Linked DNA regions of Homo sapiens. The protein of the gene in region 4 interacts with the protein of the main gene of each other region in a pairwise test. Each region holds a gene or a part of one and is shown on either strand. Other genes may lie near its edges. The genes, in order: AKAP14, SPA17, FAM153A and ROPN1.

Evidence for each region.
Region 1: the proteins of ROPN1 (region 4) and AKAP14 interact in binary tests that used the Homo sapiens proteins (3 or more experiments, as listed by UniProt).
Region 2: the proteins of ROPN1 (region 4) and SPA17 interact in binary tests that used the Homo sapiens proteins (3 or more experiments, as listed by UniProt).
Region 3: the proteins of ROPN1 (region 4) and FAM153A interact in binary tests that used the Homo sapiens proteins (3 or more experiments, as listed by UniProt).

The regions. Positions count from the first base shown.
Region 1 is NC_000023.11:119,898,879-119,905,898, reverse strand, and holds part of AKAP14 (A-kinase anchor protein 14), read right to left. Parts: intron 2,686-7,020; 5' UTR 2,676-2,685; coding exon 2,507-2,675; intron 2,405-2,506; coding exon 2,313-2,404; coding exon of another isoform or gene 2,304-2,312; exon of another isoform or gene 2,240-2,303; intron 1-2,239. UniProt on the Homo sapiens protein: Binds to type II regulatory subunits of protein kinase A and anchors/targets them.
Region 2 is NC_000011.10:124,669,039-124,676,921, forward strand, and holds the start of SPA17 (sperm surface protein Sp17), read left to right. Parts: upstream 1-4,865; 5' UTR 4,866-4,914; exon of another isoform or gene 4,915-5,064; intron 5,065-5,155; exon of another isoform or gene 5,156-5,455; intron 5,456-6,199; 5' UTR 6,200-6,226; coding exon 6,227-6,380; intron 6,381-6,386; exon of another isoform or gene 6,387-6,524; intron 6,525-6,532; exon of another isoform or gene 6,533-7,067; intron 7,068-7,146; exon of another isoform or gene 7,147-7,265; intron 7,266-7,883. Other genes in the region: SIAE (sialate O-acetylesterase isoform 1 precursor), read right to left, coding at 322-483, 4,604-4,670. UniProt on the Homo sapiens protein: Sperm surface zona pellucida binding protein. Helps to bind spermatozoa to the zona pellucida with high affinity. Might function in binding zona pellucida and carbohydrates.
Region 3 is NC_000005.10:177,779,883-177,787,432, forward strand, and holds the start of FAM153A (protein FAM153A), read right to left. Parts: upstream 3,018-7,550; 5' UTR 2,861-3,017; intron 623-2,860; 5' UTR 567-622; intron 1-566.
Region 4 is NC_000003.12:123,989,117-123,997,121, reverse strand, and holds the start of ROPN1 (ropporin-1A), read left to right. Parts: upstream 1-4,997; 5' UTR 4,998-5,200; intron 5,201-5,763; exon of another isoform or gene 5,764-5,941; intron 5,942-8,005. UniProt on the Homo sapiens protein: Important for male fertility. With ROPN1L, involved in fibrous sheath integrity and sperm motility, plays a role in PKA-dependent signaling processes required for spermatozoa capacitation.

The DNA.
Region 1 (7,020 bases), on a different chromosome or scaffold from region 4:
ACAAGTAAATAGACTCTAGTAGGCAGAAAGAAGTGCGAAGGGAAAAATGAATCAGAGAAGTGGAGAGGGTTGTGATTTTAGATGAAGTGGCCAAGAAAAGCCTCAATGAGCAGGTGATAGTTTTCAACAAAGATCTGAAGGGAGGTAAAGCAGTGAGCCATGGGTATACATCTTAGGGGAGAGGGTTCCAGGCAGAGGGAACAGCAAGAGCAAGGGTCCTGACAGGGGAACATGCCTGGCAGTCGAGGAACGGCAAGGAGGCAAGTGTGGCCGAGGGAAGAAGGTGAGAGGGGGGAAGGAGTGATGGGAGCTGAACCATAAATCAGGAGGGGAAAGGGAACTCAGATCATATTGGGCCTTGTAGACCATTGTCAGGACTTACTTTTGCCTTTTACTCAGAATGACCAGTGGGATTTGCAAGGGAAATTTTTCCTACTTGCTATGTGTTCCATTCTAGTTTGATTCAGGAACCCTGAGTGCAGTAGGCAGGGGCCTTTGCCCAACCCCAAATGGAGAAGTGCTCCACAGCAGGAAGGCTCAAGAATAACTTGCACCATTCATCTTCACTATGCTCAAGATACCCCTCCTAATGAGAACGGTGAGTGGCGTCCGCTGGAGCATAGAAGGCGTGGAGCCAGAAATCCCTGACTTTTCCTCCTTCACACCTGACCAGGCCTTCCTAAGGCCTGGGAAACTGCCCTGAGGGCTGTAGGCTTTGAGGTGCTGGCCTGGGGAACAGAGAGAGCTGGAACTTTTCCCAGGGGTAGGGGAGTTCGCCTCCACCAATTTCAACTGGTCTCTGTTCCACAGAAGCACAATGAGAAGGATTTCAAGCCTTTTTTTTTTTTGAGACAGGGTCTCACTCTGTCACCCAGGCTGAGTGCAGTGGCACAATCACAGCTTACTGCAGCCTCGACCTCCTGGGCTCAAGTGATCCTCCCACCTCAGCCTCCTGAGTAGCTGGAACTATACGTGCATACCACCACGCCCGGCTAATTATTATTATTATTTTTTGAGACGGAGTCTTGCTCTGTCGCCCAGGATTGAGAATGCAGTGGTGTAATCTCAGCTCACTGCAACCTCTGCCTCCTGGGTTCAAGCGATTCTTCTGCCTCAGCCTCCCGAGTAGCTGGGATTACAGGCGCCCAGCACCACGCCTGGCTAATTTTTGTATTTTTAATAGAGACGGGGTTTCACCATATTGGCCAGGCTGGACTTGAACTCCTGACCTTGTGATCTGCCCACTTCGGCCTCCCAAAGTGCTGGGCTTACAGGCGTGAGCCACTATGCCTGGCCTAATTTTTTAGTTTTATAGAGATGGGGTCCCACTATGTTGCCCAGGCTGTCTCAAACTCTTAGGCTCAAATGATTGATTCTCCCGTCTTGGTATTTCAAAGTGCTGGGATTACAGATGTGAACCACTGCGCCTGGCCCAAGCCATTCTCCTTTATTCACTCACCAGTTATGCAAAGTAATCCAGGGCCTTCTCAGCAAAGCTGCCACACGAAGAAGTCAGAGTCAGACACAGGCAGAAGAACAAAGGAATTCATGGGATTGTACATCTTACTATGCAGGCAATATATTCCAAAGCCAAATCAAAAAGTCTTTTGATCCATCTGCATCCCCTCTGTTAACAGGAGCATTCTAAAGTTGGTGGTGGAGGCTGGGTGCAATGGCTCACACCTGTAATCCCAGCACTTTGGGAGGCCAAGGCAGGAGGATCCCTTGAGGCCAGGAGTTCGAGGCCAACCTGAGCAACATAGCACGACCCTGTCTCTACAAAAAAAAATTAAAAATTAGCCAGGTGTGGTGACACGTGCCTGTCTACTTGGAAGGCTGAGGTGGGAAGATCGCTTGAGCCCAGGAGTTCAAAGCTGCAGGGAGCTAGGATCGAGCCCCTGCACTGCAGCCTCGGTGACAGAGTGGGACCCTGTCTCTAAAAAAAATAAACAAAATAATGGTGGTGGAGAACTCCTATTTTGGAGGAGCATCTCCCTCCTTAGGCCACTAGGCCCCCATTTAATGCACCAGCATGGACAAATTGCTTAAGTAGGAAGAGCAGATTTTCCCAGGGAAATGTAAGGTTAGAATGATACAGACACAGGGAAAATGATTGTGATTGTGCATTTCACCTTCAAAGACTATCCCACCTTGATTTTGGAACTGAGATGGAGATGATGTTTACTTATTCTAGTCAGCCCCCTTTGATACCATCTCCTAGATTTTCCAGACTTCAAACTTTTGATCTGCTGAGAGTCTCTTTATTGTTCTTCACACCGGTGTACCATGCTGGAGTGGTCGGCCTAACTTACCGAAAAATATTCGTCAATTTGTTTAAGACCCTTTTCCACAGTGAATTCACCGTGAGTCATCCACTTGATGTTTTTCAAAGGGTTTCGCTCCTCTGCAAAAAAAAGGTGTGAGTTCGTTAGTTGCCAGGTAGTGTGGTGCTATATTTAGACTATATAGACAATTATTTAGGCATCCAAACAAACAGGATCACTACCTTCCACAATCTTAACAGCATAATTGATGACATCCTCAACCAGAGCTAGAGCTACTTGAGTCAATTCATCCTCGTAGTTCTTGTCTTGTGTATTCGGCATTGTTTGGCTTGCGGCTTTGTTATCCTCATCCATTGCTTTCTGGCTTGTTGAATTTTGAGTCTCACTCATTTTCTTTTTCCTGGGGAAAAAAAGAAGTTACTGTGTGCCTGTGTGTGTACACACATGTGAACGCACTCATATAAGTACAGATCATCTCTTGAAGAATCACAAGAGACAGGAAGCAGTTATTGCCTCTAGGGAGGGGATTAGGGGTTTAAGGGTAGGAGTCAGACCTGTGCCTGGCTGCTGCTATCTACTTTTCCTGAAAACCAAGGATTCTCACATTCTCAAAATCATAATGAGGCCCGGCGCGGTGGCTCACGCCTGTAATCCCAGCCCTTTGAGAGCCCGAGGCGGGCGGATCACCTGAGGTCAGGAGTTCAAGACCAGCCTGACCAACATGGTGAAACCCCGTCTCTACTAAAAATGCAAAATTTGCCGGGTGTGGTGGCGGGCGCCTGTAATCCCAGCTACTTGGGAGGCTGAGGCAGGACAATTGCTTGAACCTGGGAGGTGGAGGTTGCAGTGAGCCAAGATCGCGCCATTGCACTCCAGCCTGGGCAACAAGAGCAAAACTCCATCTCAAAAACAAAACAAAAAACAAAAAAAACACCATAATGACTTAAATCAAAATGTAGTAGAAAAAAAGTAGCACTTCTTTGGAGTGCCTAGCAATATTGATTCCAAGTTGAATCTTTGATAAGAAACCCAATCCCTGCTAGGAGCAACTGAGGGCACCTGGCTCTTTTAAAATGATGTTAAAATGAAGTGGGTGTGGTGGCATGTGCCTGTAATCTCAGCTATTCAGGAGGCTGAAGCAGGGGGACAGTTTGAGGCTATGAGTTTGAAACCAGCCTGGGCAACATAGTGAGATCTCCCCACTCCCCAACCTGTCTTAACTTTTAAAAAGAAATATAAAGGCCCGGCGCGGTGGCTCACGCCTGTAATCCCAGCACTTTGGGAGCCTGAGGCAGGCATATCACGAGGTCAGGAGTTGAAGACCACTCTGGCCAACATGGTGAAACCTCGTCTCTACTAAAAATACAAAAATTAGCTGGGCATGGTGGCTCATGCCTGTAATCCCAGCTACACAGGAGGCTGAGGCAGGAGAATTGCTTGAACCGGGACCCAGGAGGCAGAGGTTGCTGTGAGCCGAGATCGCACCACTGCACTCCAGCCTTCCAGCCTGGGCTACAGAGGGAGACTACATCTCAAAAAAAAAAAAAAAGTATAAAGACAGTGTTTTGTTTTTTGTTTGTTTGTTTGTTTGTTTGAGTCAGAGTTTTGTTCTTGTTGCCCAGGCTGGAGAGCAATGGCGCTATCTCGGCTCACCGCAACCTCCGCCTCCCGGGAGAATCCAGGTTCAAGTGATTCTCCTGCTTCAGCCTCCCGAGTAGCTGGGATTGGAGGCATGCGCCACCACGCCCGGCTAATTTTGTATTTTCAGTAGAGATGGGGTTTCTCCAAGTTGGCCAGGCTGGTCTCGAACTCTTGACCTCAGGTGATCCACCCGCCTCGGCCTCCCAAAGTGCTGGGATTACAGGCGTGAGCCAGCGCGCCGGCTAAGATAGTGTTTTTTTTTTTTTTGAGACAAAGTTTCGTTCTGTCGCCCAGGCTGGAGTGCAATGGCACAATCTTGGCTCACTGCAACCTCCGCCTCCCGGATTCAAGTGATTCTCCTGTCTCAGCCTCCCGAGTAGCTGGGACTACAGGCGTGTGCCACCATGCCTGGCTAATTTTTTGTAGTTTTAGTAGAGACGGGGGTTCACCATGTTGGCCAGGCTGGTCTTGAACTCCTGACCTCAAGTGATCCACCCACTTTGGACTCCCAAAGTGCTGGGATTACAGGTGTGAGCCACCACACCTGGCCTATAAAGATAGTGTTAAAATGAGTAGAGGCATTACAGCAGAGGAATATTGGTTTCATAATTCTCTCTCTTGGGTTTTTCCAGTACAGTATACAATTATATCATCTCCAATAAACTGTCACTTTTATCATCTTTTTTCCAGGAGTATATATCTCTTATGAGTATTAGCTTTGGTTAATACTTCCAGAAAAATGTAAAATGAAAGTGGAAATAATGAGCATCCTCCTATTGTGTCTGACTTTAATGGCCTTGCTTTCTGGTGTTACACCATTAGTATGATGCTGGTTTGTGGTTTGAGATGTATCACATCAAGAAAACATTCGTCTGTTCCTGTTCTAGTAAGATTTTTATCATAAATGATAGCTATAATCTTCCAGATGCCTTTAACATGTATTGACAATGTGAAAATTTGTGTTACTAGGGCTGTAAAGATGGCTCCATCACAGAGCTAGAAGTCTTTCCTCATTTTCAATGTTTTTTACATCTTTTCCCTTGAGTCTTAAATCCTTTCTTTTCTTGCTACTGTTTAAGTCTCTTTGCTTATGAAAAATTGCTTACTTCCAGCACAGCTTTAAATTCCTTACAGGCAGCCGGGTGCAGTGGCTCAGGCCTGTAATCCCAGCACTTCGGGAGGCCAAAGTGGGAGGATCGCTTAAGTGCAGGGGATTGAGATCAGCCTGGACAACATAGCAAGGCCCCATCTCTACAAAAGTTTAAAAAATTAGCCAGGTATGGTGATGTGTGCCTGTAATCCCAGCTTTCTACTCACAAGGCTGATGTAGGAGGATCACTTGAGCCTGGGAGGTCGAGGCTGCAGGGAGCCGTGATCTCACCACTGTACTCCAGTCTGGGTGACAGAGCGAGACCCTGTCTCAGAGAAAATAAAAAACATGGCCAGGCACGGTGGCACACGCCTGTAATCCCAGCAATTTGGGAGGCCAAGGGGTTAGATCACCTGAGGTGAGGAGTTTGAGACTAGCCTGGCCAACATGGAGAAACCCCATCTCTACTAAAAATACAAAAATTGGCCTGGGCCAGGTTTGGTGGCTCATGCCTGTAATCCCAGCTCTTTGGGAGGCCGAGGCGGGTGGATCACCTGAGGTCAGGAGTTCAAGACCAGCCTGGCCAACAAGGCAAAACCCCGTCTCTACTAAAAATACAAAAATTAGCCAGGTGTGGTGGCACGTGCCTGTAATCCCAGCTACTCGGGAGGCTGAGGCAGGAGAATCGCTTGAATCTGGGAGGCGGAGGTTGTGGTGAGCCCAGATCACGCCATTGCACTCCAGCCTGGGCAATGAGAGTGAGACTCCATCTCAAAAAAAAAAAAAGTTGGACTGGCATGGTGGCCAGCACCTGTAATCCCAGCTACTCGTGAGGCTGAGGCAGGAGAATTGCTTGAACCCGGGAGGCAGAGGTTGCAGTGAGCCGAGATTGTGTCGCTGCACTCCAGCCTGGTGACAGAGCAAGGCTGTCTCAAAAAATAAAAAATAAGTATGTTGCAAGCAATCCTTCCATTGAGTGGAAGGGCTACATGAAAGTGGGTATCTCTCTCCAAATGGAGCTATTTTTCTATAAATAACAGCTCCCAATTTGGGGGTGTTTAATGTGCTATGTTTCATTTAACTGTCATCACAGCCCTATGAAAGAGTGCGCTGGGCACCTTCCATTTGCCTTTCCAAATCCACTGTCCTTGCATCTCCTCCTGCTTCCTGCCCTGGAAAACTAACCTGACTGCACCCATAAATGGTGCCCTCTGGCTTCTAGGGGGTTCCACACAATAAGGAGATCAGGAAGTCAAAATGTATGTCCCTGGTGGTTTTCTCCCTGCGAGTTGGCTGATGGCTGGCTGCATGAAGTCCCCAGCGTCTTTCAGGGTGGCGCTCTCCCAGCTTCCCAGTGTGGTAAGGGTAAGCATTCTCTCCCCTCAACGTTTTAGGCCCACTGTTACTAGCCCCGGGGAGCTGCACCTTCCTCTGTTGCCCTGCAATCTGGCCACACCTTTGTAAATATTCCCTTACTTAACCCTTCTACAGCTATCCTCATTTTAATATGCCAACAGTTTCCTACAGGAGCCCTGAGTCACAGACAGAGGGCCTGTTGCTGCCATGTGAAAATGAGGAAACTGAGCTGTACACCCACAGTGTCTGGCTTCACAGCCCATGCTCTCAACTGTGCTGCTCTTCTCCCTCCAAGATTGAGAAAGAGCAGTAGGGCCCTATTCTCACATTTTCTTTCTTCCTTTTTTTTTTTTTTTTTTTGAGACAGAGTCTTGTTCTGTCACCCAGGCTGGAGGGCAGTGGCACGATCTCCGCTCACTGCAACCTCCGCCTCCTGGGTTCAAGCAATTCTGCTGCCTCAGCCTCCCGAGTAGCTGGGATTACAGGCACCTGCCACCACGCCCAGCTAATTTTTGTATTTTTAGTAGAGACGGGGTTTCACCATCTTGGCCAGGCTGGTCTTGAACTCCTGACCTCCTGATCCACCCACCTCAGTCTCCCAAAGTGCTGGGATTACAGGTGTGAGCCATCGCGCCTGGCCTTATTCTC
Region 2 (7,883 bases), on a different chromosome or scaffold from region 4:
TTCAATGTTTCTCCTCTGTACCCCAAGACACCCCACATGTACCTTCATCATAGCATTCATCACGCTGTCCTATATAACTTGGTATCTATTCCCATTATTCTGTAAGTTCCTTGAGAACAGGAACTTTGACTCAGTCTTATTTTTGTTTGTATCCTCAGTGCCTAAGCACATGGCAAATATTCAAATAACTTTTATGGATGAATGGACAGACGGATGTAGGGACGGATGGATAATGTGAGCTACAGCATTAGCATTCATTTTCAGATAATCCAGCAGGTGGCAGAAGAGGGCAATAGCTGAACGGAAGATGGGCTGCCTTACCTTTCACACTGGTCACTTTCTTCATGATGGTTTCCTGACCTTGGCGCAGGGTCACGGTCACTGTGGCTCCAGGTGTACCGAAGCCCCATATCACTGCCCCAGCAGGCTCCTTCTGCAGCACCATATCATTATTGATGTATGAAGCAAAGCGAAAACCAATACCTAAAAAATTTAACAAACACTGAGGGAAGCATCATCGGAGAGATATAGCACCAACTGGATCAAGTGAAACAGCAAAGAACATACAGTCTTTATGCAAGAGAATTTTAACATACTAAGTCCCTTTAATCGTCTAAAACTGGCTCTTCTTCCTCCTAATTAGGCAAGCAACATAACAAGAACAGTTTCCAACAGTATGCATCATAGCACATGATGACCACTAAGGAAAATTCCCAGAGCCCAAGGCAACCAATGGACCATAGTCTTCCCTCTCCTTCAGAGCTCTTGATCTTTTTTTGCTCTTGGGCTTGGCCCTAACGCTGGGCTCTCTCCCGCAAAATCACTAAAATGCTCCTTTCATGCACCTATAGATGGTGTTTATGAGAAAAATAAACCACTTCCTTTCCCTACTTTCCATTACCACACCTGCTCCTAATGACTGGGAATAAAACAGCATGCCTCTCTCCAAACAGCCTTCCCTAATCTTTTTCCCCTTCTCTATCTCCCCTTTTCTATGCCACTAATGCCAATTTCCTTCAAATAATGCCCCTTATCATGGTTTTTTGACAACCCAGTGTACTGCATCAAAAATTCTAAATAAGCCCTTATAAATACTCATGACAAGTCAGCTTCCTTCTCAGGTAAATTCAAATAAATCAAGACACATAAATAAGGTCAGTGAGAGATAGAAGGTCAACATGTCTGAACAAAGGTCTTCTGTCACAATTTTACCCATTCCACAAGCTAAATTATACTAAAAGGACAAGAGAAAGCACACTAGAAACTGGATTCTATTCTAGAGAGTCACTAACAAGACTGAATAAGAACTCGCTTTAACGACATCATTCCTATTTTTAACATCCAGCCTATATAAAAGTATTTTATTAATACAAACATCCATCCAAATTATCTCAGCGTGTTCCTCATCAAAACTTAACAAGGAAAAAAATAAAACAAATTATATCCCAATTTATCTGAATAAAACAGACCCCAAACTACCTAAAATAATTAACAAAATTTAGATCTTTTTAAGCATTTTAAACAAAAATGATAGGCAGAAAAGAGAACCAGAATTAACAAGGCTGACATTTTCCTCCCTGGAAGCTACAAATGATGAGGGCCCCTTCGGCTATACTTAACAGGGCAGCACAGCTAATGGAGTCGCCTACACAGCTCCGTGGCCTATTTATCCTGCTCTTGGAATAACAGCCCAGTCCCTAAAAATCCTCAGCGCTCTCTTATGAGCTAGTGTGATCAAGAAACCTACATGACAATGAAAGATCACCCAGAAGGCCTACTGGGCTGGAGATGCACGGTTACCATGAGCAAAATGCTCTAAGAAAAGAATACAACGCCCCAGAATTGCATAAGCAGGTTGGCAGCCTGCTGGAGGGAAGGGGGAGGCACATGTGTGGGAGGGCCTTGTCTTGGGTAGGTGCTTCATATGGAACCAAAAAAAGGAAAACCACAGACATAAATAAGAGCTAAGTAGAGAGAGGGTGGGGGTAGGGGAATGGCTGCAGCTTGCACATTTGTGTGCAGTCAGTAGTCCATAGGCTAGGGGAAATACCTTCCCAAGTCTGTCTGTTTTCACCAACATACACTTAGTGAACATCTTTGTGGATGACTCTGTGCTGGGCTAAAGAGTTTTAGAGGTGGAAAGGATCTTCATAATCGTAGTATAAACACGCTACTTACTGATCAAGAAGTATAATCATATTACTGATCAAGTAACTGAGACCAAAGCAGATGAAACAATTTTTTAAAATAGCTTGCATGTTCATTAGTTAATTCAACAAATATTTATTGATGCCTACTATTTTAAGCATTGGGGATATAACGATGAAAAAATAATAATAATAATAGCAGGCAAAAATCCTTGCCCACAGGGAGCTTCCATTCTACTAGAGACTTTACCTGTGGCAGGCACAGTGCTAAACACACCACAAACATTAATGTTCTTTGGTCTCAAATCACACAGTTTATGACAAGTTAGAAAACAAGTCACTTGATTCCAAAGTTGAAATTCCCACTTTGCCGAAATTAGATACTTGTGGCAAATCAAAGAAAAAATCATATTCCTCATCTTTGTAAAGTTTAAATTCTAAGTTCATTAGAGTAGACAGTGGAACATCAAGGAATTGTGCAATGGACAAAAAAAAAGAGAGAGAGAATGAGAAAGAGAGCAAGGCTGGTCATTCCTTGTGCCAAACACAAGACACATACATTTACCATTTGATTTCTTGTTTGTTTGTTTTTTTGAGACAGAGTCTTGCTCTGTCACCCAGGCTGGAGTGCAGTGGTGCGATCTCAGCTCACTGCAACCTCCGCCTCTGGGGTTCAAGCGGTTCTCCTGCCTCAGCCTCCCGAGTAGCTGAGATTACAGGCATGTGCCACCACACCTGGCTAATTCTTTTTTTTTTTTTTTTTGATATCTTTAGTAGAGACGGGGTTTCACTACGTTGGCCAGGCTGGTCTCGAACTCCTGACCTCATGATCTGCCCACCTTGGCCTCCCAAAGTGCTGGGATTACAAGCATGAGCCACCGCGCCTGGCCAATTTTTTTGTATTTTTAGTAGAGACGGGGTTTCGCCATGTTGGCCAGGCTGGTCTTGAACTCCTGACTCTAAGTGATCCGCCCACCTCAGCCTCCCAAAGTGCTGGGATTAAAGGTGTGAGCCAACATTTGGATTTTTTAGGTCTTCAGTTTTTTCCTTCATTTGGGGCTGGAGTAGAAAAACAGGAATTAGTGTTATGGGGAAGAGAGGGCAGTGGTTGCCTCTGGTGAGGAGCTCCGGATGCATTGGCGAGGAGCACAATGGCAGGCTCAATAGACTGGCAATGTTCTAGTTCTTAAGTTGGGTACTGCTCTCATGGGTGTTCATTTTATTGTGTCATTGTTACATATAATTTTGTACATCTCAAGCATTACATGGTAAACATGGGCACAGGGAGAATGACTTAAAGGAAAAACGTCAGGATACGCAACCAAGTAGAGTACTAATGAATGAAAAATGTGATCAATGTTAATGAAGGTGATGTAACAATAAGACCCAAAGGAGGAGATAAAATACTGACACTAAAATAAACAGCCTTTAACTGAAAACCTAATAAAATATCTTTTCCCCACCTCATAAGATGGATCTCAAAGGTCACTGAGTGGAGATAAGAGTCAGGAAATGGCATACAGAGTGCTAGCATTTTGCACTTTTGTTAGACTCTGAACAATCATTTATGGGCTGCAGTTTGTCTGAATCTAGGTACTTTTCCGGCTCTCAGGTAGAGCAGGAGTCATTTTTCTGCACGCTGTTCTCCTACCCCAACTATCATTTCTTAACAGGGATCTCTGGGGTCCACTCTTTGAGTGTTTTGAAACAGAAAGGAAGAAATCCAACATTATCACTTTAGTTTGCATTATCAGACAGATTGCACCTTCTGCTTTCTCCATACTGTGACCCAGTGTCCAGCCTAGGGTATTCGAATGGCAAGATCTGACCTGCGCAACAGCCAAAGGGAGCCACCAGCCTCCCCTATGCCACTCACATTTTCCCACCACCAATATCTGTAAGCGGTACCAGAAATCAAAACTGAGCCTTAAATAGTCAGAGCTAGTGAGGGGGTTGTATTTCTTAGCCCTGATAACCACTTAAACGAGTAAAATTTAATTCCCCTAAGGAACCCCGCCTGAAGCAAACCCTCCCCAAGGGCACCACTGAGGGGGTAGCGCTGAAATGTTTTGGAAGATTCAGTCACCTGTTTCCAAATATTACCTAACTAGCTTCGCCTCCTTCCCTCCGAGCTCCCCTGCAGTTACTCCAGGACCCCGAAGGCCTCTTTCTGGGCACATTTGGGCCTCCCCACTCAGACAAGCCGCACTTTCTCCCTGCTCACAGGCTGCATGTCAGGGATGGTAAGTGGGGGGTGGAGAAAGTGGAGAGGCCGGGGTTCAACCCAGCAGACTCCTGCAGACCGGGCCTCGGTCGGAGACGCGAGCCCCTAGCCTAGCTAGGTTCCTTCGTCGACCTTGAGAAAGGGGCGCGGATCCGTGTCCCGCAGAGGACACGGGGTCTCGGAGCCCGCACAGGCTGAGGGGCAGGGGTCCGGCCGAGCCGGGCCGCCTCACCTGCACTTCTGTCGGCCCACAGGATTAATGGCAGCACCAGCCCGAGTACAAGCCCCGGCGCGACCATGCTTGCAAGGATCTGACCGCCGCCTAGGACTGGGAAAGTGGGTTCCCGGCAGGGGCGGGGCCTGGGCGGGGGCGAGGCCGACTCCACCCTTTTGCAGTCCTCGCAGCCTCCCGCGACCTCAGGACTGGGCTGTACTCGCCCCTTCTCGGCCGCCGTAGTTTTTTTTTTTTTTTAAAGAAAAAACGGTTACCCAGCAACTAGAAAAACAACCGGAACCGGCGGCACCAGCTCGGAGAGAAAGGAGGTGAGGCCGCTTCCCCACTTCCTCTCCGATACCAAGACCTAGCCTTTTCCCTTCGTCTCTCTTATTCTCTCAGCATCCCAGACACAGCCTCGGAGCCCTGGGCCGTTTGGGAGCCGAGGCAGCCCATTCTGCGCGAGTCTGAAATCCCAGGTCCTCAACATCCCGCCCCCGACTAGACCCGTCTGCCCCCTCCGCCCGCCCTCCTCTGCCCACATTGGTTCAGAATCTCGCCAGCTCTTTTCACCACTCTAGAATGGTTCGATACCCCCATCTACTGCTCCCTCAGAAAAAGCAAAAGAGAGGAGTCAGGCGTGGTGGCGCGCGCCTGTAATCCCAATTGCTCGGGAGGCTGAGGCGGGATCATCGCTGGAGCCCAGGAGTTCGAGGCCAGAGACCCCCTCTCAAAGAAAAAAAAAGCGATGAAACGAGAACCCTCCATAGTCTGAGCCTCATTAAACCGTCCAGTTCTCCCAACCTGGACCCCTACCACGGCCTCCGCCTCTATTCCGCATTGACGCACACTCTCACATTAACAGGCCAGGTCCCGGAGGATTCTTTTCATACTCAGTAGTAGCTCAGCCCGCTGCTTAGCAGCTACCCTTAATCTAGCCCTTGTATTTCAAGACAGAAAGAGACAACCTGATCAAGAAGAAACCGAAAAATATAAGAATTCTAAAACTTTAGAGGCTGGGATTTCAAAATCATGACACACAGCCCCATCCCATCCCATCCCTCCCTCACACACACGCACGCACAACCCCATTCCACAGTACGAAGGTGTTCGAAGCATTGTGGGTCATGCTTCAGAAGTGGCAGCAAGGGGAAAGATTGTGCAACTTCTTCATTCAACAAATTAATTTCTAGAACCAGGACTAATTTCTACTCTTTAAAAAAAAATAGACCTCAAAGAAGGTCTTCTCAGCAATTGACAATGAATTTAACTTTTTAGCAATCATTCTCTCTAAATTCCTGTGTGATAGCAAAAATTACCCTTACCTTTTGAGCATATAAAGGGTAAAGAGAGAAAAAGTCATATTGAAAATTATGGGTTTTTTGCAGGATTTTAAATGATTTGGCCTAGTGAATGGGTCTGTGTTTGTATTATACTAATTCACAATGGAGATTTCAAAACTCTTTGGAAGAAATGGATGGGCTTGGGTTGTGTTAGGGAAAAAAGAATTCAAGTCCAGATGTATGAGTCTCAGAAATAATTTGTTGGCATAGTTGTGATTATATAAGTAAAATCAGACAAATTTAAAGACAGTACTCTTTAATGAATCTTTAGGTTCCATAGGCAGTTCTTACCAAGAAGATGTCGATTCCATTCTCCAACACCCACTACCGAATTCCACAAGGATTTGGGAATCTTCTTGAAGGGCTGACACGCGAGATTCTGAGAGAGCAACCGGACAATATACCAGCTTTTGCAGCAGCCTATTTTGAGAGCCTTCTAGAGAAAAGAGAGAGTAAGCTTTCTAAAATTAGTCATTTTTTAAAATAAGAAACTAAGCATTTGTTTATGGTAAAACTTGCTTAAGACCATCTCCATTCTGCAGAAAGCCTTTTATGAGGCAGGGAGTTTCAGATAACAGTTCTTGCTCTTTGAAACAGTATGTACCTCTTTGATATGTTCTCTTAAATTCGTTTCATATTATCGAAGATTACCAGTTCATTATTCAGACCGTCTTCATTGTATTTCTCACGGACATACAGCGTGGAAGGTAACTGCAAAAGAGCATACATTTCTCGGGAGAAATCAGTGGGGGAAAAAAAGATCATACAGTCTACCCTCGCCACGTTCCAGCATACTGTTCCTATGCATCCCTGGCAGCTGACTGTTATTCCTGAGATGAGTATCTGTGGTTTCCTTTCAATTTTGATTCCTTCCATTTGAAAGTATTTTAAGTACTGCAAAAAGAATTCTGCACTCTTTAAATAAACTGATATTCACTGGGGTATATGAAACTGTTCTGCAATAACGGCACAGACAAACTGATTTGAAAGGTGGAATACCAGTTTGGAAAGGTAATTTATATTCTTTATGCTAAATTCCATCCTGCACAGAGACCCAGATGCCCACTAACAATAACTATTTGGTTGAAAGCCAAGGCAAAATTCCTTCACTCCTATAAATAAAATTTACAAATCCCCAACCTTGAAGGTTTATGACTGTCAGGACTTTACCAGTTTTGTACTAAAAACCTATCCTAAGCCAGGCATGGTGGTGCGCACCTTTAGTACCAGCTACTCAGGGGCTGAGGCAGGAGGATCACTTGAGCCCAGGGATTCAAGACGGTAGTGAGCTATGATTAAACCTGTGAATAGCCACTGCACTCCATCCTGGGCACTCCCACGACCCCTGCCCCAACCCCTGGAAAGCCATTGTTGATTAGAACATCCATTTTGTATAAATTCTTGTCATCATTACTTTTTATTACAGTATTCTAACAGAGTGGTAAAGGTGACTAGAAATAGGCACAAGCAAACAAACATTCTATTGTAATCATTTTATAGTGGAAGAAAACCTAGCACAAGGGTAGAATTAAAACAACTCCCACACACACTGCATAGCTCCACCCCTTGCTTTTTTTGCCCTGCCCTAGCAGAGCTCAAAATCTCTGCCAATTTCCTGAATGTTGCTGGTCTTTTCCATATCCGGTCAGGGTGAATATCTGTTGCACAATCTGAAACTTTAAATATTTTCCACTGAAAACATTTGATAAACTATATTTAGAAGAGGAACGTTATTAAGAGAAATCATTTGGCAATAGACTTGGGGGCCTATGTGAGAGCAGAGGTAGGAGGAGGGTGAGGATTGAAAAACTACCTATCAGGCATTATGCTGATTACCTTGGTGACAAAATTGTCTCTACACCAAAGCCCCTTAACACAGAGTTTAACCATGTAACAAATCTGCACGTGTATCCCTTGAACCTAAAATAAAAGTTGGAAGGGGAAAAAACTAAAAT
Region 3 (7,550 bases), on a different chromosome or scaffold from region 4:
TCGACCGTTTATGTTATCAGGAAGGCTTCCAGTCAATAGTGGGCTATTAGTAGCTAAATTGGGAAAATCAAAAGTTATACTTAGATTTTCAGCTGCACTGGAATCAGAGCCCCTAACCCCCACATTATTCATGGGTCAAGTGTAATTATGTATTTACTAAATATAAACAATTTATTATAAAAATAAACAACTTATTACAAAAATGAACTAGAAGATCCATATGTATAACAAGTCCAATTTGTTACAATGTGACTATAGAGAAAACATAAATATTATATAGGATTTTCGGGATCATAATTAAGTAAATGATTTTTTTTCAGATAATACTGTTTGAGATTATAAATCAGCTACAACTACCTTCTTAAATAACTCTTAATTCCAAACTAAAGAAGTTAAATATAAGAAACTAATTTACATGTATGTATATATGTATATATACATGCAATTTACACATCTTTTTAAACTTTTCTTTTCCTTCAAAACTACCTTAATCTTACATCTTAATTTTTTTAAACCAAGAGTAGGACCACCATGAGAAATGAGAAATTCACTATCAGAAGTCTTACCTGGATTGTAAGTTTTAAGAATCTTCTTTTTAAGTTCCAAAATTTGGTGTCGAATTCTGTATATAAAAAAGTAATAAATAAAATTGCTATTTTAATACTGAAATAAAAGTTACCATATTAAATTCTTAATGTTTGGTAAATGTGTAATCAAACTGATTCTTTTTTCCTCGCTGGCTAAAACAAAATACATCTTCGCACATCAACGTACTTCTATATCTATTGTCACCTTTGATGGTCACATATTATTGCATCCTATGGATGCAACTGAAATTTACTTATAAGATCCATTCTATGGGTTCTTTTTAAAATAAGTGCTGTGAAAAACAAAGTGCATGTATCTCTATTTCCCAAGGGTATTTTAGTATAATGGAATTGAAGGGTAACGGGCATACGCATTTTTAAAATATAGTACTTACCACCAAATTATCTATTTAAAAAGTAATCAGCAACTTAAACTTCAGGCAGCAGTATAAAAAACATCCTCACACATTGTGGATAGAAAACAGTTTCATTCCTCTTTTAATTTAAATTCTTATACCAGAAAAGCAAAGGCTTTTTTTCCTATTTACATAAGAAACTTGTAGATCTGCAAAAAAGTACTTTGCCCCCTTTTACAGTTTTTGATTATTTGATTTGAAAGAATTCCCTGTAAAATGAAGATGCACTTTTCAGGCCGGGCGCGGTGGCTCACACCTGTAATCCCAGCACTTCTGGATGGCGGCTCACTGCAAGCTCCCCCTCCCGGGTTCACAGCATTCTCCTGCCTCAGCCTCCGGAGTAGCTGGGACTATGGGCGCCCACCACCACGCCCGGCTATTTTTTTTTTTTTTTTTTTTTTTTGTATTTTTAGTACAGACAGGGTTTCACCGTGTTTGCCAGGATGGTCTCAATCTCAATCTCCTGACCTCGTGATCCGCCCACCTCGGCCTCCCAAAGTGCTGGGATTACAGGCCTGAGCCACCGCGCCCAGCCCTAAAATTTTTACAAATGTCATTACAATAGTAAAAGACAGTAGGTGTCATGCAAAAATGTTAAAACCTTGATTTTTTCATTCGGCTTATGTAAAATTGATAATCACAGAAAGAGCTCACATTTTGAGAAAAATGTGTCTTCCCATTCAGGAACACAGAACCCACCTCCCACTTCCAAGTTTCCTTCTAAGAACCTTCAGTAAAGAACCGATCTACACAGGTGGATACGGATGTAAAACGGACAGTTTTAGGTGAGAGCTTTTCGCTACTGAAAATGACTCACGGTTTTTTGTTTGTTTGTTTGTTTTTCTTTTTTGGAGACGGAGTCTCGCTCTGTCGCCCAGGCTGGAGTGCAGTGGCGCCATCTCGGCTCACTGCAAGCTGCGCCTCCCGGGTTCACGCCATTCTCCTGCCTCAGCCTCCCGAGTAGCTGGGACTACAGGCGCCCGCCACCACGCCCGGCTAATTTTTTTTTTTTTTTTTGTATTTTTAGTAGAGACGGGGTTTCACCGTGTTAGCCAGGATGGTCTCGATCTCTTGACCTGGTGATCCGCCCGCCTCGGCCTCCCAAAGTGCTGGGATTACAGGCCTGAGCCACCGCGCCCGGCCGACTCACGGTATTTTTTGATAGAGGAATGAGTTCTCTCATTAGGCACCTCCTATAATGTATATAACACCATGTTTTAAACGTGTAGGTTAAAAATAACACTGTGTATGCTTAGCTTGGTGAGTTAAATCACTCACATTCTCCACCAAGCGCTCCAGCTGGGGAATTATGGGGGATGCAGAGCAGCTGAGGCTCCGTTTGGCACCACCCCTCTGAGGGTGCCCTCTGAGGCCCCATCCCAGGGGCTGCGGGGAAGCCGGGCCTGGGGACCCCCTCCCACCCTGGGCTGAGCCCCCACCCCACTGCCTGTGCTGCCTGTCCCCGGCTTCCAGGTCTCTGCTCCTGCGCGCCAGGCAGCGCTCCACTTCCGCGGCTTCGCCCTTGACAGCGCCCTGTGGATCTTCCGATTCGGTACCCCGAACCCCTGTAGACGTGGCCTAGGGAGCCCCGGACCGCCGGCCCCTGCGGCTCCCAAAGCCGAAGAACTTCTTCAAGGTGGTGAGTTCTTCTCAGACCCCCAACCACTGGCTCCTGAGCCGCGGCAGCTCCGTGTCACCTTTTCACTCCCCCTCGCCCCACACCCAGCCCCAAATCCCCAATCCAACTCCAAATCCCCTATCCAACCCCCAATCCGCGATCCAAACCCCAATCCGTGATCCAACCCCCAATCCGTGATCCAACTCAAAATCCCCGATCCAAATCCCAATCCGCGATACCAAGTCTGCGATCTAGCCCAGAATCCGCGATCCCGCCTGGTCCACCCTTCAGCAGCGACACTGGCGGCCTCCGACCTCTCAGACCTAGTGAGCCTCGCAAAGCCGCCCGGCTCCCGGAAGCCGCAGGTGCAGGCGCCGCTGGGCTCGCGGGTTCTCCTGGGCTGGCCAGGGCTGCCCCAGGACCACGGACGGAAAATCGCAGGCGCGCGGCCCACCCCGCCTTAAGGGGAGGGCCCGCCTGGCCGTGTAGCCCGCCCCGCTCCTCCTTCCGAAGAGAGATCTGGTGCTGGCATGGGCACCCCGCGGCCACCGGAGTGGCTTCCCGGATGAGCCTGGCTTCGGCGCTGACGCTCTGGCCCTGGGGGCTGCCTGGCTGGTGTCAGGTAGCGGAAGACGCCTGGAGAGTCACTCGCTCCTTCCCCCACCCGCCCCCACCGCTGCTCGTGCCAGGACGCGCAGTTTGCAGTTGCAGCTCTGGCACTGGCGCGGGATGGCGGAGCTTCCCTTGGATGGCGTCAGGGTCACTGAGTGCACAGCCTACCTGGTCTGAGGGTCTGCTCCTCCTGGACACCTCTCCGGATCCTGATCCCTGGCGCTGGGCAATCCACAGGATGAGACTCATCGGCTGCTGGCGAAGCCGACCGCCTGACTTTGCTGCCTGGGCGGCTGGCCCCGGGATCCGCGCTGCTGGGGACGCGGGCCTGGTCTGCGGTGTCCAGCCACTTGCTGCGGGCGCGCCACGTCTAGGCTGGTGGCTGCAGCCGCAGCTCCGCGCCTGCGGGGGCTAGTGGGCCTGGTACCTGATGTCCTCAGGGTCAAGTGCATCGCTCCCCCACCTGAGGGTCTGCTCTGCCTTGACCTCCTCCAAGAGCGCAGGGGCCACCGGGGAGGCAATTTAGGAATGCCTAAATGGAAGGAACTATCCTTTCTCTGTCTTTAAGAAATAAGTGGCTTTTGTTGTTGTTTTTGTGATACCCAGCTACAGCAGAAAGCAAAGGGGATGCAGAGGTGAAGGTCCACAGCCAGTTCCTCTACTGATTCCCTCCAGGCATAAATGTTCAATCTAACGGCTTTGGTTGGCACTTTCACCTCAGCACTTACCTATGCCTACAGGTTTGTTCAATGGCAACTCTTGGATTTTGAATTAATACCCAATTATTTCATATTTTAATACCCAAACTATTTTAATAGTTTACCATATCTGCAATCCTGAATTAATTTTTTCTTTGTTTATAAAACAATCACTATAGTAAGATAAAAATCACAAAACACTTCCACATTTCATTGGGCTAAAAAAGCATTAAAACATTATACGTAAAAGATAAAAAATATATTGTTTCATCATAAAAATTATGGCTTTGCAAATTTTTTTTACCTTTAGCTACATTCTTACGATTCTTTAACTTTTCACTGTTATTTTATACATTTTTAAAACAATGCATACCAGTGTTTAAAAAACAAATGCAGCATTTCATCTAGGACTGAACATATAACGCTGGTCAGCTCTTTCAGCATGGTGCAGGTGTGGGCCTCAGGCTGCTTTCTGTTTACATGTATCAAATGACATGACCATCTTAACTGCACAGATACCATCTTCTCGGCTTCTTTCTTCTCCCCCAAAACTATTTAATGTTGCTTTAATGGCAACATCAATTTAACTAGTTTTGTAATTTCTGTATTTAATTGTCACATAACATTATATCCGTTCTTTTTTTTTTTAAAAAAAAAGGAAAGCATACAATCTTAGTTGCTAGGCCAGTTCTTCTGAATCAATTTGAAATCACCTTTTTTCTCTTTCATAATAACTACTTATTTTAATCAACAAGTCAACTATTATTAGATATTAACTTATTTTTTCTAGTTAAAATTTTGCTATCTTTCAAATAATTCCAACTCTTACACACACATTTAATGTACATAACTGTAACATATACATACATAAGCACAGGTTAAGCCAGATCTAACATGAATTTAGATATGCCAAGAAAGCCACATGACCATTATTTACATAAATATGACCAGTGTTCACATTTATCAAGGCCAATGAATATTAAGGTGATTGCTTCAATAAGAAATTAGGTGAAGAATTATTTGTTGAATATTGTCAAACACTTTTTTTAACCTGTTAAAGTTATTTAAGCCTGACCCAAATAATTTTTAAACTTTTTATTCTATCATGCCTATAGACAGCTTCATATATTAACCATTTCTGCTTTCGTGGTCCTTTGAGAATGGTATCTTAGTATGTAAGTGCAATAAATAAACAACTTTTAAAGGAATAAAGAAAATTGATATAAATTAGTCTGGAAAATCTAGTCTGTAGCTGGGCAGCCAGGTGCCCCCAGCTAAACCTCAAGGGATGGTTCTGTTAAAGTGAAGAAAAGAAGAATAGTGTGTAACAGAAGCCTGCTCTGTGGCTCCAGGTTACAGCTGTGGCCACCCAATCTGCCTTGTGCCTCCTTCTTCTCACAAGTACACACTCATCCCAGCCCCAAGCAAGAAAGACCAAAGTCCCTTGCCAGGCGCGGTGGCTCACGCCTGTAATCCCAGCACTTTGGGAGGCCGAGGCGGGTGGATCACGAGGTCAGGAGATCGAAACCATCCTGGCTAACACGGTGAAACCCCGTCTCAACTAAAAATACAAAAAATTAGCCAGGCGTGGTGGTGGGCGCCTGTAGTCCCAGCAGCTACTCTGGAGGCTGAGGCAGGAGAATGGCGTGAACCCGGGAGGCGCAGTTTGCAGTGAGCCGAGATCACGCCACTGCACTCCAGCCTGGGGAACAGAGCAAGACTCTCTCTCAAAAAAAAAAAAAAAAAAAGAAAGACCAAAGGCCCCTTCCGTTACTGTATCCAACCCACAGTGCAGGTCCTGTGGGCCATGTGCTATGCATCCCACCTGCATTCCACCTGGTTCACAAGTGGCTCCTTGATGTCCAGTGACCTATGAAAAATCATTTGTTAGGCCGGACGTGGTGGTTCACGCCTGTAATCTAGCACTTTGGGAGGACAATGTGGGCGGATCACCTGAAGTCAGGAGTTTGAGACCAGCCTGGCCAACATGGTGAAACCCTGTCTCTACTAAAAATACAAAAATTAGCTGAGTATGGTGGTGGGTGCCGTAATCCCAGCTACTTGGGAGACTGAGGGAGAAGAATCGCTTTAAGCTGGGAGGTGGAGGTTGCAGTGAACCGCTATTAAACTCCACTATTCTTTATTGGGCACAACCCAGGAGGTCAACAAATGTATTTTCCTGTTTTTATTTTATTTATTTATTTTGAGACAGAGTCTCACTCTTTTGCGCATCTGCACTCTAGCCCAGGTGACAAGAGTGACACTCCATCTCAAAAAAAAAGGTAATAATAATAATTATTATTATTCGTGGACCTGCTGGGTTACACCCAATAAAGAATAGTGGTGTAGAATCAAAATAGTCCCAATAAAATTTATATATATATATTTTTTATTATACTTTAAGTTCTAGGGTACATGTGCACAACGTGCAGGTTTGTTACATATGTATACATGTGCCATGTTGGTGTGCTGCACCCATTAACTCATCATTTACATTAGGTATATCTCCTAATGCTATCCCTCCCCCCACCCCACAACAGGCCCTGGTCTGCGATGCTCCCCTTCCTGTGTGCATGTGTTCTCATTGTTCAATTCCCACCTATGAGTGAGAACATGCAGTGTTTGGTTTTTTGTCCTTCCGAGAGTTTGTTGAGAATGATGGTTTCCAGCTTCATCCATGTCCCTACAAAGGACATGAACTCATCATTTTTTATGGCTGCATAGTATTCCATGGTGTATATGTGCCACATTTTCTTAATCCAGTCTATCATTGTTGGACATTTGGGTTGGTTCCAAGTCTTTGCTATTGTGAATAGTGCCACAATAAACATACGTGTGCATGTCTTTATAGCAACATGACTTATAATCCTCTGGGTATATACTCAGTAATGGAATGGCTGGGTCAAATGGTATTTCTAGTTCTAGATCCCTGAGGAATCGCCACTCTCTCTTCCACAATGGTTGAACTAGTTTACAGTCCCACCAACAGTGTAAGTGTTCCTATTTCTCCACATCCTCTCCAGCACCTGTCGTTTCCTGACTTTTTAATGATCACCATTCTAACTGGTGTAAGATGGTATCTCATCGTGGTTTTGATTTGCATTTCTCTGATGGCCAGTGATGATGACCATTTTTTCATGTGTCTGTTGGCTGCATAAATGTCTTCTTTTGAGAAGTGTCTGTTCATATCCTTCGCCTACTTTTGATGAGGTTGTTTGATTTTTTTCTTGTAAATTTGTTTGAGTTCTTTGTAGATTCTGGGTATCAGCCCTTTAGTCAGGTGAGTAGATTGCAAAAATTTTCTCCCATTCTGTAGGTTGCCTCTTCACTCTGACGGTAGTTTTTTTTGCTGTGCAGAAGGAGCTCTTTAGTTCAATTAGATCCCATTTGTCAATTTTGGCTTTTGTTGCCATTGCTTTTGGTGTTTTAGACATGAAGCCCTTGCCCATGCCTATGTCCTGAATGGTATTGCCTAGGTTTTCTTCTAGGGTTTTTATGGTTTTAGGTCTAACATTTAAGTCTTTAATGCATCTTGAATTAATTTTTGTAAAAGGTGTAAGGAAGGGATCCAGTTTCAGCTTTCTACATATGGCTAGCCAGTTTTCCCAGCACCATATAT
Region 4 (8,005 bases):
TTCCACCCCCTGGTGTACATGCCCTGTATAATCTCATCATCGCTGTAAGTCTGGGTGAGACCTATGAATATGAGGAGATTTCATTCCTGTGATTAATATTCTGTGGCAAAAGAGAACTTTCAGATGTAATTAAGGTCCCTAATCAGTTGACTTTGAGTTAGTCAAAAGGGAGGTTATCCTGGGTGGATCTGACCTAATCCAGTAAGCCTTAAAAAACAGACAAAAGAAACAACAACAGGTGCCTCTGCTGGCCTGGAAGAAAGCAAACATCAGTGTCGTAAACTGCCATTCCAGGGCCATGGAACTACGACGTGAAAGTGGCTTCTATGAGTTGAGAACAATCCCTGACCAAAATCCAGCAAGAAAATAGGGACTTCAGTCCTACATCCCCAAGGAACTGAATTTTGTCAACAACCAATGAATATGGAAGAGGACCCTAAGGCTCATATGAGAGCACAGCCCTAGCCAACACTTGGATTTTAGCTGGGCAAGACCCTTAGCGGAGGACCCAGCTAACCCACTCAGACTCCTGCCCTGTGGAAACTGAGATCAGAAATCTGTGTTGTTTTAAGCTGCTAAGTATGTGGTAATTTGCAATGCAGCAAAAGAAAACAAATGTATATGTGAAAGGAGTTTATGTACACAGGGTTGACTGGCTCCACGGGGAGTCTAACAACCACACCCCACAGCTAAATCACAGAATTGTGCTGAACCTGAGTATGGTGTACCCATCATCACTGCTCAGCCCCAGCCTCACCATGATCCAAGCAGCAGGTGGGACAGGGTCACTCTCGTTTCCTCCTATGAAATGGCACATTTAAGATCTGGGGAAAGTGACCCACAATATAAGCCACATAGGATAGGGAGAACTGACTCTCTGAGCTCAGAGATAGTATGAGACAGTTGATATTTATTATAAGGCTGAGATGGTAAGAAGACCGTCAGGATTCCCACTCTCTGGTGCCAGACCTATGGTTACTTGGCCAGATAGAACTTTAGTCCCTAAGATACTGAACATGCAAAGCTGAATGGACACTAAAGTATCATTTTTCAGAAGGCCCTCTTAAGGAAGGAAGGGGAAACAAGGTGGAAGGAGAGAAAAAAAAGGAGAATTTAATTCAGTAAACAAATATTTATGGTACCCATTATGTGCACAGTTCTGTTCGAGGCTCTCGAAATACAGCGGTGACTAAAACAAACAGAATCGCATGCACTCCAGTGAAAAAATATAGAGAAATCAATAAAACAAAAATTTAAAAATACATAGTATGTAATGATTATAAAGCAAGGGAGGAGTTGGAAGGGATATTGGTGTTCAACTTAAAAGAGTCAGATAAGACTCCCTTAGAAGGTCACATTTGGATACAAAACCGAAGGTGCTAAGGAATGAACCCTGTGGATACCTGAGGAAATCATGTTCCAGGCAGATGAAATGCAAGTGCACAAGTCTTGAGGCAGGAGAGGGTCTGGCCTTTCTGAGGGATAATAAGATGGCCAGCATGGCTGGAGGGAAGTGATGAAGGAGAAAAGAGAAAATGATGGGTTCAGAGAGTTTAAGGGCCTGTGGGTTATTTTGACTTTTACTTGCATAAGGTGGGAGCCACTGAGGGTTCTAAACAGAGGAATGACATGATCAGTCTTAGGTTTTCAGTAATTCGATCCTGCAGCTGTGATGAGAACAGACCCCTGGAAGGGAAGGGCGGAAACAGGGAGACAGGTTAGGAAGCCATTGTAGTGGTCCGGGTAAGAGATGAAGTTTGCTTGGACCAAGGTGATGGAAGTGGAGAGAAGTGCTCCAATTCTGAATGACTTTTGGAGATACAGCCAATAGCATTTGCTCTGATTGGATTTAAGGTGTGAGAGAAAAAGCAGCCAAGGATAATGCCAAGGTTTTTAGCCTCTATGAGGAAGCCTGGAGGAACTGGTTTGGAGAGGAATCTTAGAGTGCAGTTGGGGTGTATTAAGCCTGAGAAGCCTAATAGACATCCAGTGGTGCAGAGTAAACAGTTGGATGTTCTAATGTGGTATTTAGGGAAGGATTAGGGCTGAAGACATAAATGTAGTATCCAAAACATGAAACTGGATGAGATAAAAAAGAGAGTGCATGTAGATAGAGAAGTCCAAGTGTAAATCCTAGGGCACTCCAAGATTAAAGTGCCAGGGAGAGGAGGAAGAACAAGCAAAAGAGACTGAGAAAGAACAGCCAATGAGGAAGGAGAAAAACCAAGAGTCTAATGTCCTGGAATCCAAGGAAAGAAAATGTTTCAAGCATGTGAAAGTGATCAACAGGGTCAAAGGCTGCTGATAGGTTGAGCCGAGGCTGAGAGATGATTTTGGATTTAACAGCATGTCATTGGGGACTTTAACACAAGTCATTTCAGTAGAGTGGTGGGGATGAAAGCCTGGTTCAAGTATATTAAAAAGAGATTTGGAAGAGGGAAATTAGAGGTGGCAGGTATAGGCAACTCTTTTAAAGAGCTTGGCAATAAAGGGAAGCAGAGAAAATGGTCAAAGCTGAAGAGGAAAATGATGAAGGCATGTTTTTATGTTGATGGGAATTATCTAGTAGAAAAAGGGAAATGATGAGAAAGGATATAGTCAATATTCGTTCGTACAAGAAAATAGCAGAAAACAGTGTAACCTACTTGATAAAAGATTGTATGTAATAAAAGATTTTATTGTAATATTTAAGACAGATTTTTTACTGAAACATAATAAACACCCATGAACCCATCACCCACCCCAAAACTAGACCACTACCAGTAACATCTATGTGCTCCTCCCTCTCTACTCTTACCTCTGTTTTAGAAGAAAGCAACTTTCCTGAATTATGTTATTATCATTTTCCTGTAAAATTGTATTCTCTTGACTGTATCCTGTTATATTTATTGACTAACAGATCAAGGATAATCTAACCTAGGCCTCTCAACCTGGCCTCCTACAGACAGACATCAAATCGCCTCAGTCAGACAGTCCCATGAAATTCCTCCCTTGTGTTTAACTTGCTACACTAAAATTCTATTCTGTTTCATCTCCCATCTCTAGCTGCTAGTGCTTTGTCTGAAAAACCCCTTCTTCTGCACAAAGATCATTATTATTCACTCCTGTCAGCATTATTTACTCTGCATGAAAGCAGGAAGAGATTGGCACACCTTTATCCCATGTGCATACAACAGAACAGACCCCAGTGGCCAGAGCATTCTTGTTATCCTGGAAGATGCACCTGCAGCCCTCAAGCCTCCAGCCTCCCCCTCCCAACCTAAGGCACACCCTGTTTGTCAAGTGCCTATACCAACACCTGGCAGCCCCTCCACAGAGGCCTCAGAAAGGCAGGTGATAGCTAGTGACTAGGTTTCTTTCATCCCCAGATCTTGCCCTGTGGGCAGTGGCCATCCCCAGACCATCCAGGATTCTCCAGGTGTGCAAGGACCTACAGGATTTTGACAAATGCCAGCAGAGTGGCCTCTTTACAAATGGATGACAACAGGCTGTGAAAAGCTTTCTGCATGCGTAACCCAAAAATCTAGTTCCCCCACTTGTTCACTGATGCTTAAAATTGCTTTAGGGAGAGACAAAGGCTTTCATCTCACAAACAGAGAAAGCTTTGAAGGGCCTGGGTGAACTAATCTATTTAGACTAATACACACTGTTGTATAAATGGAATGAAGGATTAGATGATGCAATGGGCCCCTTTAAAATAGGTGTGAAGTGACACGGGATGTAGCAGAGAAAGATGGGGCTTTTCTTGCCTCCTTGGGTGCTTAAAACGAACAGTCTTGAGACCAGGTGCGGTAGCTCAAACCTGTAATCCCAATACTTTGGGAGACCAAGGCAGGTGGATCACTTGAGCCCAGGGATTCAAGACCAGCCTGGGCAACATGGCAAAACCCCGTTTATAAAAATATAAAAATTAGCCTGTCATCGTGGCAAGCACCTGCAGTCTCAGCTACTTGGGAGGCTGAGGTGGGAGGATTGCTTAGACCTAGGAGATTGAGGCTGCAGTGAGTCATGATTACCCCATTGCACTCCAGCCTGGGCAACAGAGCAAGACCCTGTCTCAAAACACACACACACACACACACACACACACACACACACACACACACACACACACAGTCTTGAAACCGGAAGACCTGGAGTAAAGTTGGGCCCTGAGCCCTACTGCCAGCTGTTCGATCACAGGCAAAATTACTCGAAGCCTTGAGCCTGTTTTTTATTTCCAAAGCGAAGGTAATACCTACCTTCAGAGTTTACTGTGAAACTTTGATGTCATCATGTTTGTAAAAGTGCCCTGGCACAGTGACCACATTCTACCCTATAAATATTTTCTATCTTTCCCTGTTGTCCCCAGGCATCTCAGGCTCTGTTCCTATCCACTCCATGCCCCTTTCTTAGCATTATAAGGTCAAGAGTGAGGAATCTGGGACCACGCAACCCAGATTCAGATCCTGACTCTGTCACTTGCTGACTGTCATCTTGGACAAGTTTAACCTCTCTGTGCTCAGTTCCCTCATCTGTAAAAATGGGGATAACAATAGTACTTGCCTCATGGGGTGACAGTAAGGATGAAATGAGTTCATGTGTGTAATGCACTTAGAACAATTCCTGGCACCAAAAACTCATTGTAAGAAGTGTTGTTACTATGATTCCTGAGGAATTCTCACCTGTCCACTTTCCACAAGCCGAAAGATCAAGCTCCACTTCTGCCCTCTCACCTACAAAAGCGCACCGTCAATGGCTACACATTCCGCCCCACCCCCAACGCCCCCAGCCCGGGTTTCCTAACGTCCCCAGCCCAGTCCTTAACCCTCCAGGCCGTCTGGTCCTTCCACCACCAGCAAAGCCCAAAACAGCTTTCAGCGTCCCCTAGCAGCGCCCTAGCGGGACCCTGGGAACCCGCCGCTGCAGGAGAGGCGGGGCGGCTCTGTGACGTCGCGCCCGGCGCTACCCCTGGTGACCTGGCAGCGGAGCCCGCGCAGGGTTTGCCAGGCGAAGGCGGAGCGCTAACGTCTAACGCTAACGGCGGTCGTGCCCCGCCGCTGCTGTCACCCCCGGCCGCTGCTGCCCTCCCCGCCGAGGTTCTACTGCTCTCCTTCTTAAGAAGGGTGGGAGGCACTCGGTCTCTCCCCACACCTCTCGCCTGAGGCCAGGCGCCAGGTGTCGCCTGAAGCCAGACAGCCGGTTTGGGAGCGAGCCTGAGGTAGCCACCCCGAGGGGAAGTGGAGGGAGGGCAGGGCTCTGAGCGCCCCGAGGGCTGCGCTGGTCTGAGGGAGGAGCCCTGCCGGACGCCCCCTGGATTCTGAGCCTCTCCTTGTTCACAGGGCAAGGGGAAGGCAAGGGGATCTTCAAGAGAATGTGACTGTGGGGGATTATGGCTTTCTGGCCAATTTGTGTGCGTATTTTGTACCCAGAATACTATTATACGGTTTCTTACCCGGAGGACAGTGGTTGGGAGGCTCAAGAGTTTGGAATCAGAGCCCTCCACCGAGGAGCCACACCTCTGCTTTTTCATCAGCGACAGGGATATAAAAATACCTCTGGGTGAATTGTCATGTGGATGTCATGGGCATACCTAGCACTTCATAGACTCCTATCACACATTATTTTATACCTAGCACTTCATAGACTCCTGTCAGGCATTATTTTATACCTGGCACTTCATAGACTCCTATCACATATTATTTTATACCTAGCACTTCATAGACTCCTATCACGCATTATTTTATACCTAGCACTTCATAGACTCCTATCACGTGTTCATTTTATAGCTAGCACTTCATAGACTGCTATCACGCATTCATTTTTACTAGTACCTATTGAACACTAAGTTCCAGGCACTGGGCTAGGCACTGGGATGGTGTGGTGAGCAAAAACTGACCAGTCCTGCCGTGGAGTTTGCTGGGGGAGACACATGTTACTCAAAGAATCACACTAAGGATAGGTAAGTGATGCTCTGGAAGGGTATGTACAATGGAACTGACAGGGTAATCAGGGAAGGTTAAGCAGACCTCCAAAGGAAGAATCAACCTGTTAAGAGGAGGAGAATGTATTCCAAACAAGAGTAACCACATCCCAAACCCACCATCTCCAATTCCAAACCCAAACAGGGATGTGCAGTTGCCTGTGCTTGGTTCCAAGTGATACTCATAGAAACCCTCTGAGATTCTGCCCTGGAGCCTTTCATTCATGTTACTGGAGACTTTCATTTATGAAACGGAAGCCCTGTTTAGCCCATACCAATAAAACCAAGTGAGAGATCCCTGAAACAAGGCTATAGTCTATTTTAAGACCTACATTCTTCAGCACTTGGCAGGTATATGTTGGCCTCCATTTTACATTGAGAGGCATGTAGGTTTCACTTAGGAGGAAATGCATTGAATTGAAAGAGTTGGGGTTATGGATAAGCTCTGGAATGTATAATTGAAGAAGACCTACACTATCAAGAGATTTAAAAATGGAAAATAACTTTACAAAATGTTAGAATTGAGGAATGTTAAGATAGAATGGACCTTTCTCCCACTTCTTTGATGTGAACAAATGACCCTTATTGCCCAAAGGCAGGAAAGCTGGGCTTTGGTGCCTCTTCAACTCAGAGAGTCTATGATTTCAACTCTGTGATTCAAAAGTGCATGGAACTCCTGAAAGTAAATGGGAACATGGGGGGATAATTTGACCTGACCCTCCTTTAGTGTTTTCTATTTCTACAAGGGTACCACCACTGTGCACCCAGTCATCCAAGCTTGAAAACTGATAGTCACTCTAGACTTTTCTGTCCTTCACCTCTTCCTCCTTCTCCACCTTCTCTTCTTCCTCCTCCTCCACCTCCTCTTTTCTTCCTCCTCCTCCTCCTTCAGTAGTTACCAAATCCTGTAGATCCTATCTCCTAAATACTTGTCTCTTATATCACTCCCTATTGCAACTACTTTTCAAGGCAGTGAAGCTCCTGGGAGTTGTCAAAAGTGCTGCCATATTCTCCTAACCTGGCTCCCTGCCTGAAGCTTCACCATCCTCTCTTCAGCTCATCCACACAGCTGTCAGTCAACGTGTTTCAGAGTCCAACAAAGAGAAATAAATCATATAGTAATTTTTTGAGCATATAATTTAACAAGAGAAGTTCAATATAAAGAATTGTTAATGATGGGATTGGAGTAATGAAGGATTGGCTAATATGTCAGGAGAGATCTAAAATATACAGGAATCACAGATATAAGGGGCAACCACTACCCCTGAGATAGATCACCCAAGGAAGAAACCTTTCCCAGAGCTTGGTGCATAGGGGATGGCCACAGCTGACTGGAGAGCAGAGAAATTGCTGAGGTGCCAGGCAGGCAAAATTTACTCTCTGAAACACCAGAGAAGCCATTCACTAAAAGGTAACTCACTGACAGCACTCTGCTATAGAGCTTCCCAAGAGAGGTGCCAGGGGACACTGCTAGCCATGGAGCACTGATAGCCACTGTGTACTCCAGCAGTTGGGCACTCAAAAGATCACACACTGCATGAAACAGATGCTAGAAAAGCTGTGTGCTACAGGATCCCAGCATAGGAGAAACTACAAGTTCCTGGAGCCTAGCAAGAAGAGCATACCTAAATTCCTAAGAGAAACCTCTTCCTCCTCCAGTCCTTCCAGTGCCCTGTCCTAACAAAGCATATCCTTATGACAGCTGACAAGGGAAAAAATGTTAAAGGACCTAGTTCAATTTTTGTGGAGGAGGCAATACAAGGTGAATTTGGAGCTGAGAGGCAAATATTGATAACCGGACCTAAAGCTAACACTGATTGTGTGACTCTTGTGCTTAAATTTTCTAGTGGTTCCCCATTGCCTTCAACAAAAAGTTCAAAAGCCCAAGCCTTGAGCTATATTTCCAGCCTTAGGCCCAACCACTCCTGCTTTGTCCACTTTAGAGCTCCATAATTACAGTTCCCTGAACTTGTCACGTTTCTGACAACCCCACATCTTTGCCTAAGTCCTTCTACCTACATGAAATTCTCTCCTTACTCTCAT